Regions from separate parts of the Homo sapiens genome. Here all the other regions are linked to region 4. The links come from fine-mapping of genetic effects on gene expression. A gene starts in region 4. Each other region holds a variant in brackets. All regions are shown on one strand. Distances are from middle to middle.

Region 1 (5,210 bases), 94 kb after region 4:
CAGATGCCACAGGGCACTTATCGTATGATTCTGTGTATAGGAAATGTCTGGAATAGGCAAATCCATAGAAACTGAAAGTAGAGGCCGGGTGTGGTGGCTCACGCCTGTAATCCCAGCACTTTGGGAGGCTGAGGCGTGCATATCACCTGAGGTCAGGAGTTTGAGACCAGCCTGACCAACATAGAGAAACCCCATCTCTACTAAAAATACAAAATTAGCTGGGCATGGTGGTGCACGCCTGTAATCCCAGCTACTCAGGAGGCTGAGGCAGGAAAATCGCTTGAACCTGGGAGGCGGAGGTTGCGGTGAGCTGAGATCGCGCCATTGGACTCCAGCCTGGGCGACAAGGGCAAAACTCCGTCTCAAAACAAAACAAAACAAAACAAAACTGATAGTAGATTAGTGGTTGCCAGGGGCTGGGGGAAAGAAAGGATGGAAAGTGGCTGCTGGTGAGTACAAGGTTTCCATTTAGGGTGATGAAAATGTGCTGGAAAAGAAAGTGGTGATAGTTGCGGAACCTGTGAATATACTAAAAGCCGCTGAATTGTACATTTAAAAAGAGTAAATTTTATGGTATGTGAGTTATGTCTCAGTAATAATTCCAGTAAACAGGGAGTAAACAACCAAGGTCTCAAGAAAAGCAAAGTATATACCACGAATCCATGGGGCCAGACGTCATATTCCTTCTTCACAGGGGAGCATCTCAGGCCCTCACACCAAGCTTACCTTTTTTTTTTCCTTTTTGAGACAGGGTCTCCCTGTGTCACCTGGACTGGAATGCAGTGGCATGATCTCGGCTCAGTGCAACCTCCGCCTCCTGGGTTCGAGCAATCCTCCCACCTCAGCCTCCCAAGTAGCTAAGACTACATGCACACGCCACCATGCCCAGCTAATTTTTTGTATTTTTGGTAGAGATGGGGTTTCACCAGGTTGCCCAGGCTGGTCTTGAACTCCTGAGTTCAAGCGATCCATCTGCCTCGGCCTCCCAAAGCGTGGGGTTACAGTCGTGAGCCACCGCGCCCGGCCTCTTTTTAGTTCAGATGCGATTGGAGCAGTTTCGATTTTCTGGTTCCTTTGTTGCTGGTGAAGCCAGTTCATCAGTACCTGCTTTCTCTAGGCTGTCATTTCTCGCAGAGGTGGTGCAGCAGCTGTTTTTATACTATGTGACCTTATCTTCCTGGCCACAGCTGACTGGACCACAGGTGGGAAACTGACCCAGCCGGGCCAGTCTCTCCTCTGGCTTTGGCATTGGGATAGTGACAACTCTTTCTTCTCTGCAGGTGACTGGAACTGATTTGACATAACCATCGTATGCATGGAGAAGCTGAGAACAGTAATCTGCAGAAGCAAAAGTATGAAACAGCCGGGCAAAGATGCACAGAGGTGAGAGAGACGAAGGGAACGGCCTCTGGTTTCTGTTGAGCTTCCACTTCTTGGTTCTGCCTCCTCCCCCCGTTCACCTTTACCTTTGAGATACCCCCATAATCTCATAATAAGTGTTCATTTTTTACTTAACCTAGTAGCCTTCTGAAACTTGGAATTGAAAAGACTATGTCTATAGCCCTAGGATCTAACAGATAAAAAATGTATTATGTCACCAGTAACGTAGGTGGTAAAACAAACATTTGTTTGAATGCAGCAAATTAGAAGGAGGTGGGACGCGTTGCCCCAGGCCACCAATACTAAGAGCAGCGATACACAAATAGCCCATAAAAAAGAAATGTTTCTATAAAAAGCAGAGCCAAGAACTCCGAAAAGCTCATCAGTCTGGGGCCATTTAGTTTAGAGACCTCAGTGTGCCTTAGGGTGTCATTTGGTTATGGTTATGTAAGACTGACATTTGTTACAATGGCCTTGAGCCGCAAAAGGCCAGTCAGAAGAGACAGTGTCATTTGTTTAGGAGAATCTACAATGAAAAAATGTTTAAATTAAATGTTTAGGCATTTAAAGATGTAAGACTCGCTTATCTGGCACATAGACATTGTGAAATACGTCATTGTATAACAGAATGACAGATACGTGTGGCACACAGTATAATTATATATACTTCCAGAAACAGAACGTCTAAATAAAGAACAAGTTGATAGCAGAAGTGAGGAATAAATTATTTTATAATTTTGCTGTTGCTTTCCCTGGGTAGTGCTTGAGACTGAATCTATTGTGGAACAACAACAACAAAAAAAACAAAAAGCAAAAAAACAGAACAGAAAAACCCTGACTCTTATCTAACAGGCCATATGTTGATCACAGATAATCCTCTCAACCCCATCAGACCCAACGTCCTTTTCGTTTTTTTGACACAGGGTCTCTCTCTGTTGCCCAGGCTGGTGTGCAGTGGCGGGATGTCAGCTCACTGCAACCTCCGCCTCCCAGGTTCAAGCAATTCTCCTGCCTCAGCCTCCCAAGTAGTAGCTGGGATTACAGGCACCCACCACCATGCCCTGCTAATTTTTGTATTTTTAGTAAAGACAGGGTTTCACCCTGTTGATCAGGCTGGTCTCAAACTCCTGACCTCAGATGATCCACCCACCTTGGCCTCCCAAATTGCTGGGATTACAGGCGTGAGCCACCATGCCGGCCACTTGTATTATGGTTTTAAAGTGTAAGACTTCTTTATATATTCTAGATACAAATTCCATATCAGATATATGATCTATAGATGTTTTCTCCCATTCAGTGGGTGGGAGGAATTACAGGTTGTTGAAATGGAGGAGATGGGGAAGGATGATATTCCTGCAGATGAGCTGGACATATTCTAATACCTGGATCTTGACATCTTAGCACATTTGACATTCGGTCTTTAGGCTGTAAAAGACCTCAGAGATCACACCCTTTGATAGGCAGCGTAGAATAAAAGGTGGATGGGGAATAACCTGTGACTGCAAGAGGCAGTGTGGGGGAATTGTCTGATACTGCTGAAAACAAGAGGCAGCCCCAAATTCATCAATCCTGTATGTGATTTTCACAACAAATTTTTGTTTGTTTCTTTTTAAATTTCACAATGAAATTTCATGTCACTGTGCCAC[G/A]AAGAAAAAATTGTAATATATAGAATGGAAATAATGTAAAATCTATATATTTTATTTCGTTTTACTTGGTTGAAAATGTGTAACATTTATGATTTTTTTTTTAGTTTTTAACTTTTTTTATTTTTATTTTTATTTTTTGAGACGGAATTTCGCTCTTGTTGCCCAGGCTGGAGTGCAATGGTGCGATCTTGGCTCACCGCAACCTCTGCCTCCCAGGTTCAGGCAATCCTCCTGCCTCAGCCTCCCAAGTAGCTGGGATTACAGGCATGCACCACCACGCTTGGCTAATTTTGTATTTTTAGTAGAGATGGGGTTTCTCCATGTTGGTCAGGCTGGTCTCGAACTCCCGACCTCAGGTGATCTGCCCACCTGGGCCTCCCAAAGTGCTAGGATTACAGGCGTGAGCCACTGTGCCCCGCCCGTTTTTTAAAATTCTTAAAAAAAAAAAAAAAAAGAAAGAAATGGGGTCTCACTATGTTGCCCAGGCTGATGTCAAACTCCTGGCCTGAAGCAATTCTCCCAGCTCTGCTTCCCAAAGTGCTGGGATTACAGACATAACCCAGTGAGTCCAGCAAGGCAAAACTATTGAAAAGCTTTTTTATTTTTTATTTATTTATTTTTTTAGAGACAGAGTGTTGCTCTGTCCCCCAGGCTGGAGTGCAATGGCGTGATCTTGGCTCACTGCAACCTCCATCTCCTGGGTTCAAGCAATTCTCCTGCCTCAGCCTCCCAAGTAGCTGGGATTATAGGCGCCCACCACCACACCTGGCTAATTTTTTGTATTTTTAGTAGAGACGGGGTTTCCCCATGTTGGCCAGGCTGGTCTCGAACTCCTGACCTCAGGTGAACCACCCGCCTTGGCCTCCCAAAGTGCTGGGTTTATAGGTGTGAGCCACTGCGCCCGGCTGAATGAGGCTCCATCTCAAGATAAAATAAAATAAAATAATGATAGTATGCTGTGGAAAGATATTTGAGATAATTAAATGGAAAAATATAACAGGGCAATATGTGTACTGGGTCTTCAAATTTTTGTGTTTATAGAAAAAAGTGTGGCAGATCATAAATTAAAATCTTAACTGGTTTTTCTGGGAAGGGTGAAACTATAGATGATTTTTGCTCTGCATACTTATCTGCATTTTTAAAAATGTCTACTCTGAAGTTGATTACTTTTCTTAAGAGAAGGCCGGGCACGGTGGCTCACACCTGTAATCCCAGCACTTTGGGAGGCCAAGGTGGGCCGATCACGAGGTCAAGAGATCGAGACCAGCCTGGCCAACATGGTGAAACCCCGCCTCTACTAAAAATACAAAAATTAGCTGGGTGTGGTGGCGGGTGCCTCTAGTACCAGCTACTTTGGAGGCTGAGGCAGGAGACTCGCTTGAACCCGGGAGGCGGAGGTTGCAGTGAGCCGAGATTGTGCCGCTGCACTCCAGCCTGGGTGATAGAGCGAAACTCCATTTCAGAAAAAAAGAAAAGAAAAGAAAAGAAAAACAATTTTAAAGCTACTCCTAAAAATGTTTATGAAGTATATTTAATTATATGGAGGAAATGCTTATGCTGTAATGTTAAGTGAGGAAAAAGGCAAGGCAAGATACAAAACAGCGTGTGTTAGAATCTAAATTATACACATCAAAAGAAGAGAAGCATCTTGCTTCATCCAGGGAGAATGATCTTTTTTTTTTTTTTGATAGAGATGGAGTCTCACTGTTTTACCCAGCCTGGTCTTGATTCCTGGGCTCAAGCAAACCTCCTGCCTTGGCCTTCCAAAGTGTTGGGATTACAGGTGTGAGCCACCGCGCCTGACCAGAATGATTCTTTGAATCAATCTCTTTTCTTCCCTAGTATTTGTCTTTAAAGTGCTAGATTAGGCCAGGCGCGGTGGCTCACGCCTGTAATCTCAGCACTTTGGGAGGCCAAGGTGGGCAGATCATGAGGTCAGGAGTTCAAGACCAGCCTGGCCAACATAGGGAAACCCTATCTCTACTAAAAATAGAAAAATTAGCCAGGCATGGTGGCATGCACCTGTAGTCCCAGCTACTCAGGAGGCTGAGGCAGGAGAATCGCTTGAACCCGTGAGGCAGAGGTTGCGATGAGCCAAGATCGCACCACTAAACCAACAGAGGGAGACTTCGGCTCCAAAAAAAAAAAAAAAAAAAAAAAAAAAGACTGTAATCTCAGCACTTT
Region 2 (5,210 bases), 46 kb after region 4:
AGTGGCAAGAGCATTCCTCATTCTGAATAGTGCCTGTGAAAACCCTGGGGTTGGCTCTGATTGGCCCAACATGGGTCATGTGCCCATGCTTGAACCAATCACTGTGGCTGGGGGTAGTGGTGCTCTCATTGGCCTGGCCTGGATCCTGTGCCTGCCCCAGAGCCTAGGAGACAAGATTGGTCCCGCCCCAACTCCAAGGGCTGAAAGTCAAGAGGTGGTTCCCCAAAGGAAAACTGGAGGATTGGAGGCTGGACCACCCCTTATGCCCTCACACTAAGCTCTTTTTCTTGCAGGCCTTGGATGTTTGGGCCATGGGTGTGACACTATACTGCTTTGTCTTTGGCCAGGTAAGAGGGCGGGGTGTCTGTCCCCTCAGTACTGCTGGGTGGCCCCTGGGTTAATAGTCACCCTTGCGGGGAGACAGTACTTACTTATTTAAGAGTTATTTTAGGCTGGGCATGGTGGCTCACGCCTGTAAACCCAGCACTTTGGGAGGCTGAGGCAGAGGTTAGGAGTTGGAGACCAGCTTGGCCAACATGGTGAAACCCCGTCTTTACTAAAAATACAAAAAATTAGCCAGGCGTGATGGCGCATGCCTATAGTCCCAGCTACTCTGGAGGCTGAAGCAGGAGAATCGCCTGAACCCAGGAGGCGGAGCTTGCAGTGAGCTGAGATTGCACCATTGTATTCCAGCCTGGGCAACAAGAGCGAGACTCCGTCTCAAAAAATAAAATAAGAGAAGAGTTATTTTATTTCTACACCTAGATCTCAATGTGAAAAAGGATGCCTTCCTAAATATACATGTGTATGTATGTCATGATCATATCTATGAAAAAATGATCTGTTAAAACAGAAGGATTGGCAGAGGCTCTAGAGTTTATAAATAGTTGATAAATTTAGGGCAAGGACAGCAGTTCTGCCACCTCTCCCATTTCTGAGCCCAAGGCAGACATCACTAATCAATAACTGTGCTCGTTCCTCCTGAGCCTGATACTGCTCTGATGTTCTTTCCGTCAGGGTATTCCTAGAAGCTTTTGTCAGAGGGGTAGCATTGGAATGGAAGTTAAAAGCTGTTTACCATTATTGATTTAGGGAGTGCTGTTTGGGCTTTTCTGTTGTTGTTATTTTGTTATTATTGATATCTGGGGGCTTCTCTCTCTATTTTTTTTTTTTTTTTTTTTGAGATGGAGTCTTGCTCTGTCACCCAGGCTGGAGTGTAGTGGTGCGATCTCGGCTCACTGCAACCTCCGCCTCCCGGGTTCAAGCCATTCTCCTGCCTCAGCCTCCTGAGTAGCTGGGACTACAGATGCCAGCCACCACACCCGGCTAATTTTTGTATTTTTGTAGAGATAGTGTTTTGCCATGTTGGCCAGACTGGTTTCAAACTCCTGACCTCAAATGATCTGCCAGCCTGGGCCTCCCAGAGTGCTGGGATTTGGGATTACAGGTGTGAGCCACCACGCCTGGCCTTCTCGTTTTAACTCTGAAGTTCAGTTTGATTATGTGAGCAATAAAAACGTAGATTTTTCCCTTTCCTGAGCTTGTGTTCTTATTGAGGAAAGCCTAAGAAACTGGTCCCATGAAGAAGTAAAGGAGTTTATACCGATTGCCTCTCAATATTTGATTAGAAAATTTTTCAATCATGTAGCAAAGCTGGAAGAAGTGTCCAGTGAACACCCACATACCCACCACCTGGATTCTACTATATTAACCTTTTCCTGTGCTTGTCTGTTCATTCCTTACCCATCCCTCAGTCCATCTGGTTTCTTAATGTATTTCAGAGTAAGTTACCACCATCTCCACTCTTCCTTCCAAATGCCTTAGAAGGCAGTGATTAGGTAGAGCTCAAGTCACTGCTCTTAATGAAATCGTTTTCCTTAGACGGGTGGTTCAGGTACCTCTCTGCCACCTTCTCCAACATTTTCAGTGTCCCGTGTAAGGATTCCTTTTCCAGCACACATGACCAAGCTGCTCTTGAGTCAGGCCCTCAGCTGGGTGAAAGCATCGATTTGTCACCCAGAAGGTGGTGCAAAAATAGGCTTCAGAGTCAGCTGAATCTAGGCTTAAATCCCTCTTCGTACTTCCTGGGACACATTATTTCTCTGAACTTCTGTTTTTCTCTTCTGTAAAATGAGAATACTACTTATTATTTCTGATGACTTCTGAGAGGATTGACAGAAATAATTCAAGTATCCATTAATTCAGCAGATATTTATTGAGCCCTTACTTTGTGCAGGAACGCTCCTAGGCACGGAGAGTCCGCAGTGAGCAAGACAGCCAGAAATCCCTGCCTTCTTGGAGCTAACGTTCCCGTGGGAGGGGTTAAACAATAAACAAATCTGTACGATAACGTCAGGGATAAGTGCTACGATGAGGAGTGATGTGGGCGGTGGCGGCATTGGGGGTTGTCTGTTTTAGACAGGGCTTCAGGAAGTCCTCCCTGAGAAGGTGAGCTTTAGTCAGACACCTGCATGGTGGGAGAGACCAAGCCACGTAGATGTTGGTGAGAAGAACATTCCAGGGACGGGGAACAGTGAATGAAAACCTCAGGGCAGGGCGTGGCGCGATCCAGGCTAAGCCCTTGAAAATCACTGCTGCTGCCACAAATAACACAAAGTCTTTTGTGTTATTCTTGTTGTTCCTGTTGTTCACCTGGCAAGTAGGTGACGAGCAGTGTTTGCTTTGGTGTAAGTAGGTAAACTGAGGCCCAGCTACAGAGGGAGCCTGCAGTGTGCTTGGGAAAGGCTCTAGCCCTTCGAGAGGGCCATTCCTGGCTCTGCCCTG[C/T]GTCGGCCAGGCCCCACACCCCTGTGTCTTGGCCATTCTCGGGGAGAATGGGAACTGCTTGCCCCCTAGCCTGGGCCGCAATTGTTGATTTCTCTGCTGTATCCTATGTGGAGTGGCACAGCACAGGTGGCCCTCGAAGGGCAGATGTGGCCGCCATTGACTGCCACTCTGTCCCTGGCCTCTTTGCAGTGCCCATTCATGGACGAGCGGATCATGTGTTTACACAGTAAGATCAAGAGTCAGGCCCTGGAATTTCCAGACCAGTGAGTATCTCCCGCCGTCCCGCATCTCTCCTGTCCGAGTTCTTGGCGGTCCCGTGTCTGCCACCCTGACGCCTCTCCATCCCCAGGCCCGACATAGCTGAGGACTTGAAGGACCTGATCACCCGTATGCTGGACAAGAACCCCGAGTCGAGGATCGTGGTGCCGGAAATCAAGGTACCCTTGGCTCAGCCTGTGCCCCGTGCTCGGAATTGTTTGGCTCAGCCATGCCTCAGCCAGACCCCACACCCTTGTGTCCACAGCACCACACCCTCCTTGGCACCGCTGTTCTCCTATGCCCCAGGGCCTCTGAGCTGCTGGGGGCTGTTGAGGGCTGGGTAGGAAGATTTGGGCATTGTGTGCACTGTGACTGTGGGAGTGGGATCTATGACCCGCCAGCCTGCACTTGCTCTGATTGGCGTGGGCTGATGGGATCCACCCTCTGCAGACCGGCATGGGGCCTCCGTGCTCCACACCCTATTCCCAGAGCTCAGGTCCTTTCCAAAGGCCCGTCCCTTTGAGAAACTGCAGTGAGGATGGGAGGAAATTAATGAGCAATTCGACCTCCCCAGCCTGCTGAATCCCACCCTCTTGCAGAAAGCACTTTTAGGAAAGTGTATTCCCCTACACATCTCCACTAATGCCACACACATATATCTGGCCCTCTAGGAAATCTAGAGATTTGCCCTGGGACTTCCTAGGCAGCTAGCTAACTGGCATTTGAAGGTCTTAACAGAAGGCAGCCCAAAAAATCATGGATTGGGGCTTGGACCCAAGGGGGCAGACCCCTGCCTGGGTCCTCTCCTGATCCTGTCCTGCCAGCTGGTCCCACCATGCCTCCAAGCCTCTCCTGCTGTGAGATGGGGAGAATGCTGCCTGCTGTGCACTGAGCCTCCCAGGTGTCAGGGATTGTGGCTGAGGAGTGATGGATGCTCCTTGGGCAGCCAGGCAAGGCAGATGCCAAATTCCCATCACTTCGGCCAAGACCCGGGGCCGGATGGAGAATCGCCCCACTTCCATTTCAGCCTTGTAGCTCCTCCCGTCCTGTCTCTCCGTCTTCATGTTTCCGCCCCTTTGCTCACCCCTGCCCTCTGCTCGCCAGCTGTTTTGCATGCCTGACCACAGGCCCTTGCCTCTCCGTCCTGCATGCCCTTGTGGCTCCGCTCGCTGGCAGGGCCCCCCGGTAGCCAGCCACACCTGCCCCTCACCCCTCCTGTCGTTCGTTGAAGCTGCACCCCTGGGTCACGAGGCATGGGGCGGAGCCGTTGCCGTCGGAGGATGAGAACTGCACGCTGGTCGAAGTGACTGAAGAGGAGGTCGAGAACTCAGTCAAACACATTCCCAGCTTGGCAACCGTGGTAAGGTGGATGGACCCCTGACCCAGAGCAGGGACCCAGGAGCCTGAGGTGGGGCCTGGCCAGGACAGGCCGGACACAGGCGGGTGCCCGGGAGTCAGATGTCCGGGGGCCACCCCTAATCCACAGCTGCTGGCCTCTGGGCCTTGGTCATGTATCAGGCCAGGTGACCCCTGCATCTTCTGAGCCAGGTTCCATGTTACCATAGGAAGGGGAAGATTATCCTTCTGGAATTCCTGCTTTCAGAGCTCATCAGGGGAGAGGAACTAGGAGAAGTTCCAGGCAGGGGCAAGGGTTGGGAGCCGGAGCCCAGGTCTCTAAGCCAGGATTCCCGCCTAGCTGGAATTTTAGGCTCCAGGGTGGATGGCGTAGCATATCTCACGTCTGCTGTGTGGGCAGCCACCAGGGGTAGGGGCAGGGACTTCCACGCACACACTCAGAAAGTTCTGCCCATCTCCTGAGAGTGAGAATTGCTTAGGAGCAAGTAGGTCCCCTTTTATGGCCTTGAATTTGGATCCTGACCCAGGAAGAAGGAGCCAGAATGTAGAGTCCTCAGGCCTAACCTTGGAGGCTCTGGGAATCGCCACTGACCAAGTCCCTGTCCAGGAGGGCAGTTAGCTCCAAGAGAGAGACCAAGAGTCCCAGGGATCCAGGTTCCAGGCAGCAGGCTTGGGGACAGAGACCAGCAGGTTGTCCCACCACAGCCACCTCGAAAGGCCTGGTTGCAGTTGGCCAGCACTAGTCCCAGTGGGCCGGCGGGCCCCTGGGCTCTGGGAGGGACCCTTGAGACTGGCTGGAAAGGCACAGAAGG
Region 3 (5,210 bases), 27 kb after region 4:
CAAAAAGAAAAAAAAGCCAAAGTTTTAATTTTGGTGAAGTCCAATTTATCATTTGTTTCTTTTGTCTGTACCTTTTTTGTATTATCTAAGAAACCCTTGTCTACCCCAAGGTTGCACAGACTTGCTTTTCTTGTATCACTTTATGTTTTTACAGGACAATGTAGCCAAGGATTACTTGTTTGATTTAAAATTTACTTTTTAAAAGTAGGAACAACCTTCTTTAAAAAATGGGTTTTACAAGAGTCCACAGTGTGTGGTTACATTTTGACAAAGTACAACAAGCAAAATCAGCGTTGTTAGAAGTCAAGAGAGTGGCCACCTGGGGGAGGGCAGAGGTGCGAGTGGCTTCTGGGAGCTGGGGATGTTCTCTTTCTTGATTTGGGTTCTGGTTACCTGTATGTGTTTAATTTGGAGAAATGTATCTAGTTGCAAACTTTTTTTTTTTTTTTTTTGAGACACAGTTTTACTCTTTTGCCCAGGCTGGAGTGCAATGGTGCAATCTCCGCTCAAGCAACCTCCACCTCCTGGGCTCACGCGATTCTCGTGCCTCAGCCTCCTGAGTAGCTGGGATTACAGGTGCCCACCACCACGCCTGGCTAATTTTTATATTATTAATAGAGATGGGATTTCACCATGTTGGCCAGGCTGGTCTGGAACTCCTGAACTCAAGTGATCCTCCCACCTTGGTCTCCTGAAGGGCTTGTAGGTGTGAGCCACCGTGCCTGGCCTCTAGTTGCAAACTTAAAATTCATTTTGCACGTGTCTCTCCTTACTCTCTAGGACTGTGTGCAGCTGAATCAGTATACCCTGAAGGATGAAATTGGAAAGGTAAATATCCCTGGGGCTAGGCTGGCTTTCTGCATTCACCAGGGGCGTTCAGATACTGTGGAGGGAACGGGGTAAAGCTGGGAGCAGGAGAGGAGTCTTTGAAGGCGAGGTTGGTGGAGAGGGTTTTGTCATTAATGATCTAGGTTTTTGGTTTAGTTTTGTTTTCTTGTATCTTAAAATTAAATATGTTTCTGCAGAAGCTCAGAAAGCTTCCAACGAAATTCCATATCGCCTTGGTGATAGTTACATCCCCAATACATTTGGGGTTTTGTTTCACCCCGAGGTACTCTGACATCTAGTTTTGCTTTTGTTTTAGCTAATGGGGGGTATCATCACCATGGTCAAAACTCCAAATGCCAGTAGAAAACAAGTAAGTAATATAAAGGAGTGAGGCATGCCAGCTGTAAGGTAGTAGGGAGTGGTAAGGACAGTGGCAAACCATTAACATATGGAAATGAGGGCTACATATAGCTAGATCTTTCCATTTTTTCAAAATAAACTAGGAATCTTGATTTTTTTTTTTTTTTTTAGACAGGGTGTTGCTCTATCACCAAGGCTGGAGCGCAGTGGCGCAATCTCGGCTCACTGCAACCTCTGCCTCCTAGGCTCAAGCGATTCTCCTGCCTCAGCCTCCCAAGTAGTTGGGAGTACAGGTGTGCACCACCACACCTGGCTAATTTTTGTAATTTTTGTAGAGACAGGGTTTCACTATGTTGCCCAGGCTGTTCTCAAACCTGACCTCAAGTGATCTGCCCGCCTCGGCCTCCCAAAGTGCTGGGATTACAGGTGTAAGCCACCTTGCCTGGCAAGGAATATAGATTTCTATATCAGACCTTTCTGTTTTTTTTTGAGACTGAATTTCACTGTGTCGCCCAGGCTGGAGTACAGTGCCGAAATCTTGGCTCACTGCAGCCTCTGCTTTCGGGTTTAAGTGATTCTCAAGCCTCAGCCCCCTGAGTAGCTGGGATTACAGGTGCCTGCTACCATGCCCCGGCTAATTTTTGTATTTTTAGTAGAGACGCGGTTTCATCATGTTGGCCAGGCTGGTCTCAAACTCCTTAACTCAAGTGATCCGCCTGCCTCGGCCTCCCAAAGTATTGGGATTACAGGTATGAGCCACTGCGCTCCGCCCAGATCTTTCTGTTTTTAAATCTTGGCAACTAATCCAAACTTTGTAAAAACCTGGGCTCCAACAAAATACAGTTGCGGGACAGATTTGACCAATGGGCTGCCGGTTTGCAACGTCTGTATTAGGGTTCTCATTTTGCAGATCTTAACTTCTGGATAGTATGTCATGGGCATCTCCCTTTATCCAGGGCTCCTATGGTGTCGTCAAGTTGGCCTACAATGAAAATGACAATACCTACTATGTGAGTATC[C/T]GCATTCTCCTCCCTGCCCCCATCCTTATCCACAGAAGAGCCTCCTTTCCAGCACTCAGCTTCCTGGAAAGTTTTCCTAGCTGTTGTCTCATTTTATTCTTAGGTCATGTTTATTTTGTGCCTTAGGAAGGAAGTGGTATGCCCATTTTACAGATAGGAAAATGGGGAGGTGAGGGGATTGGCCCAGAAAAAGTTACTCATTCAGCAAAAGGCTTTTATGCCCTTCCTCTGAGCTGTCATCTCTGCATCCTCCATAGTATTGAGAACAAGGCAGCAGTGAGACAGGTGTCTGTGTGGGTGGCTTTGGAGTCAGTCCAGCGTAGTTTTGAACCTGAATCTATCGTGTGCCAACCATGTGACCTTGACAAGTGATATTTCTCCATGTGTAAAACAGCTGAGCCTCAGTTTCCCCATGTGTAAAACAGCTGAGCCTCAGTTTCCCCATGTGTAAAACAGCTGAGCCTCAGTTTCCCCGTGTGTAAAACAACCAGTCCTGCCCCTCCTTTGCCCATTGCTCCAGCTCACTTGTGTTTTGATTCGATGGCAGCAAGTCCTGAGGCTCGTGGTTTCCCAGCTGAGAGAGGCGACCGTGAGCCTCAGGAACACCTCAGAGCTGGAGGCACCCCAGGAGTCCAGCCTCCCTACAACCCCATGGCTGCTTGACCCTCTCTGGTAATGAGGGGCTCACTCTGTTGACCTGAGCCTGCCAGGGGGCCAGGAGCTTGGGCCGGCTTTGGAGTAGAGGAACCCCGACTGCGCCCTCCTTCCCCTTTTCCTCCCTGCTTTAAACAGGACCTGGCTAAAGGTGCTGTCCTTCATTTTCCTGCAGGCAATGAAGGTGCTGTCCAAAAAGAAGCTGATCCGGCAGGCCGGCTTTCCACGTGAGTTTGGCGGGCCTTTGTTGTTAGGTACAGGGGCTGGGACAAGACAGGGCAGAGCCCCCTGAATGGGAACCATTGCACTGGGCATGGTGCCACATGCCTGTAGTTCCAGCTACTTGGGAGGCTGAGGCACAAGAATTGCTTGAACCTGGGAGGAGGAGTTTGCAGTGAGCCAAGATCGCACCACTGCACTCCAGCCTGGGTGACAGAGCAAGACTCTGTCTCAAAAAATAATAAAATAAAAATATTTATTAAAGTTATATAGGTATCAAGTCAAAAAATCCAATAGAGGAAAACACTGGCAATTCCTCAAAAAGTTAAACATGGTGTTACCGTATGACTCAGTAATTTCACTCCTACTTATATACCCAAGAGAACAGGACATCCGTGTTCACCTAGGAGCTTGTATGTGAATGTTCATAGCAGGTTTAGCCACAATAACTAAAAAGTGGAAACAGCACACACGGCTTCAGAGAATGAATAGAGTATATATGCATCCAGTGGAATATTCATCCATTAAAAGTAATATGAATAGAGTATATATATATATATATGCATCCAATGGAATATTATTCAGCCATGAAAAGTAATGAAGTACCAATTCATGCCCCAACACAGAGGGGTCTTGAAGACATTATGCTAAGTGAAAGAAGCCTAACACAAAAGCTCACATATTATGTGATTCTGTTTATGTGAAATACCCAGAATAGGCCAATCCATAGGAACAAAAGTAGATTTGTGATTGCTGGGGGCTCTGGGGAACAGGGGAAATGAGGGGTGAATGCTGATAGATATCAGATATGTATATAGATATTTAGGGAGGCATTGAAAATATTCTGCAGTTGGCCGGGCACGGTGGCTCACACCTGTAATCCCAGCACTCTGGGAGGCCGAGGCGAGTGGATCACTTGAGGTCAGGAGTTCAAGACCAGCCAGGCCCAACATGGTGAAGCCCTATCTTTACTAAAAATAGAAAAACTAGCTGAGCGTAGTGGTGTGTGCCTGTAATCCCAGCTACTCGGGAGGCTGAGGCAGGAGAATTGCATGAACCAAGGAGGTGGAGGTTGCAGTGAGCCGAGATCATGCCACTGCACTCCAGCCTGGGTGACAGAGCAAGACTCCATCTCAAAAAAAGAAAAAAAAATATGCAATAGATAATGGTGATGGTTGCACAACCTTGTCAGCACTAAAAACCATTAAAATACACATTTTAAAATGGTAAATTTAGCAGGGCACGGTGGCTCATGCCTATAATCCTAGCACTTTGGGAGGCCAAGGTGGGTGGATCACGAGGTCAGGAGTTTGAGATCATTCTGGCCAATATGGTGAAACCCTGCATCTACTAAAAAAATACAAAAATTAGCCAGGCATGGTGGCATGCATCTGTAAATCCCTGGCTACTCGAGAGGCTGAGGCAGGAGAATCGCTGGAACCCAGGAGGCGGAGGTTGGAGTGAGCTGAGATTGCGCCACTGCACTCCAGCCTGGACGACAGACTGAGACTCCATCTCTCAAAAAAAAAAAAAAAAAAAAAAGATAAATTAAAAAAATTTAAATACCACGAGGTATTTGAATTATATCTACCAAAAAAAAAAAAAAAAAAAAAAAAAAAAAAAGGCCAGAGCACAGGAGGGCTCATCATGGAGACCAGTTTCTTGCTGACCTCTTTCCTTCTCCTATAGGCAGCCTTGGCTTTTAGCACTTTTAGTTGCTGGTAGCTCCTGTGTGTGGTCAGATGATAGGCTGCAGGTGAGAGTATCAGAGGCTGCTTCAACATAAGCTCCCTGCCAGCATTGCTGGGCAAAATGTCAGCTTGGGCCAAAAAGAGAAATTAGATAAGAACAAACAGCCAGGCATGGTGGCTCATGCCTGTAATCCCAGCACTTTGGGAGGCCGAGGCGGGTGGATCACGAGGTCAGGAGTTCAAGATCAGCCTGGTCAAGATGGTGAAACCCTGTCTCTACTAAATATACAAAAAAGTAGCCAGGCATGGTGGGTGCCTGTAATCCCAGCTACTCGGGAGGCTGAGGCAGAGAATTGCTTGAACCTGGGAAGCAGAGGTTACACTGAGCCGAGATCGCGCCACTGCACTCCAGCCTAGGCGACAGAGCGAGACTCCATCT
Region 4 (4,559 bases):
CTGCCTCCCGGTTCAAGTGGTTCTCGTGCTTCAGCCTCCTGAGTAGCTGGGATTACGGGCACCGCCACCACACCGGGCTAATTTTTGTATTTTTGATAGAGATGGGGTTTCACCATGCTGGCCAGGCTAGTCTCGAACTTCTGGCCTCAAGTGATCTCTCCGCCCGGGCCTCCCAAAGTGCTGGGATCATAGGCGTGAGCCACCATGCCCGGCCTCAGGTTTTTGCCATTTCCAGCAAATGCATGCACGTTGAGTAACATCAGAAGAGGTGGATGGCCGAGCATGTTGGCTCATGCCTATAATCCCAGCACTTTGGGAGGCAGAGGCAGGAGGATCACTTGAGCCCAGGAGTTTGAGACCAGCCTGGGCAACATAGGGAGAACTCTGTCTCTACAAAAAATAGAAAAAATTAGCCAGGTGTGGTGGTGTGTGCCTGTAGTCCCAGCTACTCAGGAGGCTGAGGCTGGAGGATCACCTGAGCCTGGGGAGGTCGAGGGTGCAGCGAGCCGTGATCGTGCTACTGCACTCCAGCCTGGGCAACACAGAGAGACCCTGTCTCAAAACAAACAAACAAACAAACAAACAAACAAACAAAAAAAACAAAGAAAAAAAAATGGGAGTGGGCCGGGCGCGGTGACTCACACCTGTAATCCCAGCACTTTCGGAGGCCAAGGCGGGTGGATCACGAGGTCAGGAATTCAAGATTAGCCTGGACAACATGGTGAAACCCCATCTCTACGAAAAATACAAAAATTAGCCAAGTATGGTGGCCGGCGCCTGTAATCCCAGCTACTCGGGAGACTGAGGCAGAGAACTGCTTGAACCTGGGAGGCAGAGGTTGCAGTGATCCGAGATCGCGTCACTGCACTCCAGCGTGGGCGACAGAGCGAGACTCCGTTTCAGAAAAGAAAAAAAAAAAAAAAAAAAAGGGAGTCGGGGTGGAGCTCTCATTGGCTCGTTGCATGTGAGTGTCCCTACGGCCTAGAAATACAAGAGAAGCACATCGGAACGGGCTGGAAATCCACCCAGTTAACTAGAGGGCTTTGAACCTTTTATTAACTTGGAGGTTGACTCTCCTGTCAACTCGATTCCCTTTTGGCTGTTTGGCAGGGTCAGTGAGACATCCCCTGGGTCGCTCGACCCCGTAGGACGGTTCAGGGAGCCCTCCAGGTCTTCGTTTCTCCTCTTCCCCGCACAGTGCTGTTATCCAGCTGGGGGATCCAACGCACACTTAAGGCTCCAGCAAAGTAAGTGCCAAAAAGGGGAGAATGGGAAGAATATGCTGTATTTCACAAAAAGCATCTAAGTAGCCATCTGGAAAAGCCAGAATGAACTTCAATGGTGCATCCAGGTGGGCTGGGGATGGGAGAGGAACGCCTTCCCCCAGCCTTTAGGGCCGGCCCTGAGCAAGTGGTCAGTCGGCAGGCAGCTGCGGAAGGGGGCTCCCCCGAGTCGGTGGTGGCCCAAAGTCCAGGCCGCATCCACCGCCCGGCGCCTAGCGCAGGGGCAGCAGCCGGGTCGCCACAGGAGGGGCCCCGGGTGTTCTTGCCGGCTTGGGGGAACTTTCCCAGGGTCAGCCCGGAGGCGCCCTGCAGCCCCGGCATTTGGCTAAACAAAGCAAGCGCTGCCGGCGCGGCCCGCCCGAGGGCGCCGCGGGAAGAACCTGGGCAGGTGCGCGCCGCGGGCGAGCGGGTACAAAGTTGCGGCGCCACCTCCTGCGCTCCGCGCCCCTCCAGGCTCTCCTCCCAGCCGCCTCCGATCCTCCCGGCCGGGCCTCTCTTCCCCCGTTCTTCGCCTCCTCCCTTTCTGCTCCTTGCCCTTCGCCTCTTCGCTACTTTCGTCTTTGCAGGCTCCCGCCTCCCCACCCCTCCCCGGCGCAGGGCCGAGCCGGCGGGGGCGCGCAGGGGGCGGTGCGCGGCGGGCGCGGGCGGTTCCGCTTTCGGGTTTCCCGCCGCCGTGGCCAATCCCCGCGCTGCCCGGGGCGGCGACGCGCCCAAGCCGAGCCGGGCGGCTCCTCCCGCCCCCGCCCCCCGCGCGCCCGCCGCCCGGGCGGAGGAGAGGAGCGCGCGGCCGCGCAGAGCAAGCTGAGCCGAGCCGAGCCGAGCTGGGGGCGCAGAGCGCGGGAGGCGGCGGCGGCGCGGAGCCCAGGTGAGCTGGCGGTAGCCGGGCCCGGGGCAAGGGACGCAGCCGCCGCGGCCCCGGGCGCCCGCTCCGTTTCCCTCTCGAGGCGGGGGACCGCCGCCGGCATGGCACACAAAGCCCGGAGGCTGGCCTGGGGCTCCCAACACGGAGGGACCCCACGTGCGCCTCCCCACGCCCCGCCACGTGGAGGGACACGGTCCCCGACAGCCCTTCCCCCGCGTCCTCTGGGCGCCCTGGGCCTCGGGATGGCCTCCTCGGCTGGGCCGCGCCCTGTCCGGGTGGCAGGGGCGGTCCTGGAGTTTGGAACCGGGGTCACCGGGGGCCGGGTCCGTCAGGGTTCGTGGAGGCGGCCTAGGCCCAGCCCCTCGCGTTTGACAGGTGGGGAAATCTGGAGCGTTCCGGGGAAGAGAGGACCAGCGGACTTGGAGCACCCCCACCCCGCAGCCTGCCTGTCTCGGGGCAAACCCAGGCCCTGGTGGCTTGGACACCAGGTGGCAGGACCCTAGGCCAGCAGTTGTGGGGACCTAGGGGACCTTTGGCTGTCTTCGGTCTGCCCTTTGACCACCCCCACCGCACCTCTTCTCTCAGCCGGAGCCTCACAGGCTTGGTCCTTCTGACCTAAATTCACCTCGGGGTTGCAGTATGCTGTGAATGCGGAGAGGCGTCCGCCTGACTCTCAGGGACACTGGACCCAGCCCCTCTCAGCATTGGGGCTCTGTGCCTGGGGTGCCACCCGACCCAGCCTTGAGCTTTTCCTGGCTTTCCCCCAGCCCCTGCACTGCCTAGCTGGGGAAGTGGGTGCTTTCACAGCTCTGCCAGCCTGCCCTCCTGGCCACTCTCACTTAGTGCTGGACAGGATGCAGCTCAGCCCCTCCGATCTCCCCGAGAAGGCTGAGCTTTGGGGAGGGCGTCTCAGTGCTATCAGCAAGAGAGGGATACCTGGCCTCCGGATGGGACCTGCAGCGTCCATCTCCCTACAGGCTACTTTTACCTTCCCCAGCCTGGTGTTTGGAGTCTCCACGCAGGGGATAGAAACTTCAGGTGCCCTAGAGCTGTGCTGCCATTTACCACTCCCCCTCCCCTAGCTCTGCCCCCAGAGGAGAGAGAAGAGGATGGCTTTATGTCCCCATAAGCTCCTTTGTTCCTTGGAGGAGGCGGGGGCTGCAACAAGGGGAGGGCTTTGGGGGAGTTAGCCACCCTCTTCCCTAATCACCCCACAAAAACATGCAGTTTCAGAATAAATAGTGTGCATGCCATGCAAATGCAGCTTTAGGGCAAGCCCCACATACCCCTTCCAGACTGCTGCTCATACACCCTTCCTATGGAGGAAGCAGGCATTGGTGACACACACCCTTCCTATGGAGGAAGCAGGCATTGGTGATGAGGACGCAAAACATATTTTTGTAATGAAGAGTAATAGCCATCATTTGATGAGCCCCTAACTTGGATAATAATAAGAATACTTATTTATTTATTTTGAGACGGAGTCTCTGTTGCCCAGGGTGGAGTGCAGTGGCACAATCTTGGCTCACTGCAACCTCCGCCTCCCGGGTTCAAGCGATTCTCATGCCTCAGCCTCTCCAGTAGCTGGGATTACAGGCGCCCACCACCATGCCTGGCTAATTTCTGTATTTTTAGTAGAGAAGGGGTTTCACCATGTTGGTCAGGCTGGTCTTGAACTCCTTACCTCAAGTGATCCGCCTACGTCAGTCTCCCAAGTGCTAGGATTACAGGCATGAGCTGCCACCTGGCCCTGGACAATAATAATAATAACAGTATTAAAAACTAACATCTATTGAGTTCTTGCTGCCTGCCAGATTCTGTGCTATGTGTTACATGCATTATCTCATTTAATGCCTACCAAATCCTACAACGTAGGGAATTTTAACCCCATAGTAGAGATTAGGAGACTGAGGTTTACAGAAATCCTGCAGTGTTGCTAGGATTTAGCCCCATTTTATAGAAGGGCTCAGAGAAGTTAAGTAACTTGCTCAGGGTCACACAGCCAGTGCAGGCATGTCAGGCCTTAGAACCTTTGTGCACCTGTTCAAGAGCAGAGACCCTGGCAAGGCTGCCCTGAGCTTCTTGAGGAGCCCAGGAGTTTGTTTTGTTTTGTTTATTCACTACATCAGTGTTTGCCGATGCAGCTCTATGCAGGGTCTGTAGTACTGCCCATCCTTAGATATGGCTAGTGGGCTGGTAGCTAAATATAGTCACTAATAACAATGCACTAGTTCTCATCCGGGGGTGGTCCCACCCTCCTGGCAGGGATTTGGGAAAGTGTGGGGGCGACTTTTGGTTGTCAAAATGATGCTAAGCACTCCTGGCTTTTAGTGGGCGGGAGTCAGGGATGCCTACTAAAGTGTCCTGTAGGCAGGCCAGGGCCACGACATAAAGAATCACCCTCCCCTGGCTGG

What was found. PIP is the estimated chance that this variant, and not a neighbour inherited with it, causes the effect. A credible set is the group of variants that fine-mapping cannot tell apart.
Region 1: its variant is the best candidate, but not a certain one, in a credible set for the expression of CAMKK2 in visceral fat (GTEx, PIP 0.64).
Region 2: its variant is the best candidate, but not a certain one, in a credible set for the expression of CAMKK2 in whole blood (INTERVAL, PIP 0.78).
Region 3: its variant is the best candidate, but not a certain one, in a credible set for the expression of CAMKK2 in testis (GTEx, PIP 0.81).

The regions. Positions count from the first base shown.
Region 1 is chr12:121,199,671-121,204,880 of GRCh38, reverse strand. It overlaps LOC105370032 (a long non-coding RNA gene), which reads left to right. Exons shown (of 4, transcript XR_001749352.3): 2 at 1,281-1,383. Among named protein-coding and RNA genes, the nearest start is that of P2RX4, 7.9 kb to the left of the region's middle. The variant G/A (reference allele first, on the strand shown) is at 3,027.
Region 2 is chr12:121,247,798-121,253,007 of GRCh38, reverse strand. It overlaps CAMKK2 (calcium/calmodulin dependent protein kinase kinase 2), which reads left to right. Exons shown (of 17, transcript NM_001270485.2): 11 at 294-347; 12 at 2,974-3,047; 13 at 3,134-3,221; 14 at 4,274-4,402. Among named protein-coding and RNA genes, the nearest start is that of P2RX4, 40 kb to the right of the region's middle. RefSeq lists an enhancer at 3,988-4,067. The variant C/T (reference allele first, on the strand shown) is at 2,785.
Region 3 is chr12:121,266,516-121,271,725 of GRCh38, reverse strand. It overlaps CAMKK2 (calcium/calmodulin dependent protein kinase kinase 2), which reads left to right. Exons shown (of 17, transcript NM_001270485.2): 3 at 781-828; 4 at 2,145-2,198; 5 at 3,037-3,088. Among named protein-coding and RNA genes, the nearest start is that of CAMKK2, 28 kb to the left of the region's middle. The variant C/T (reference allele first, on the strand shown) is at 2,208.
Region 4 is chr12:121,294,227-121,298,785 of GRCh38, reverse strand. It overlaps CAMKK2 (calcium/calmodulin dependent protein kinase kinase 2), which reads left to right and starts at 2,077. Exons shown (of 17, transcript NM_001270485.2): 1 at 2,077-2,148. RefSeq lists a silencer at 1,392-2,541.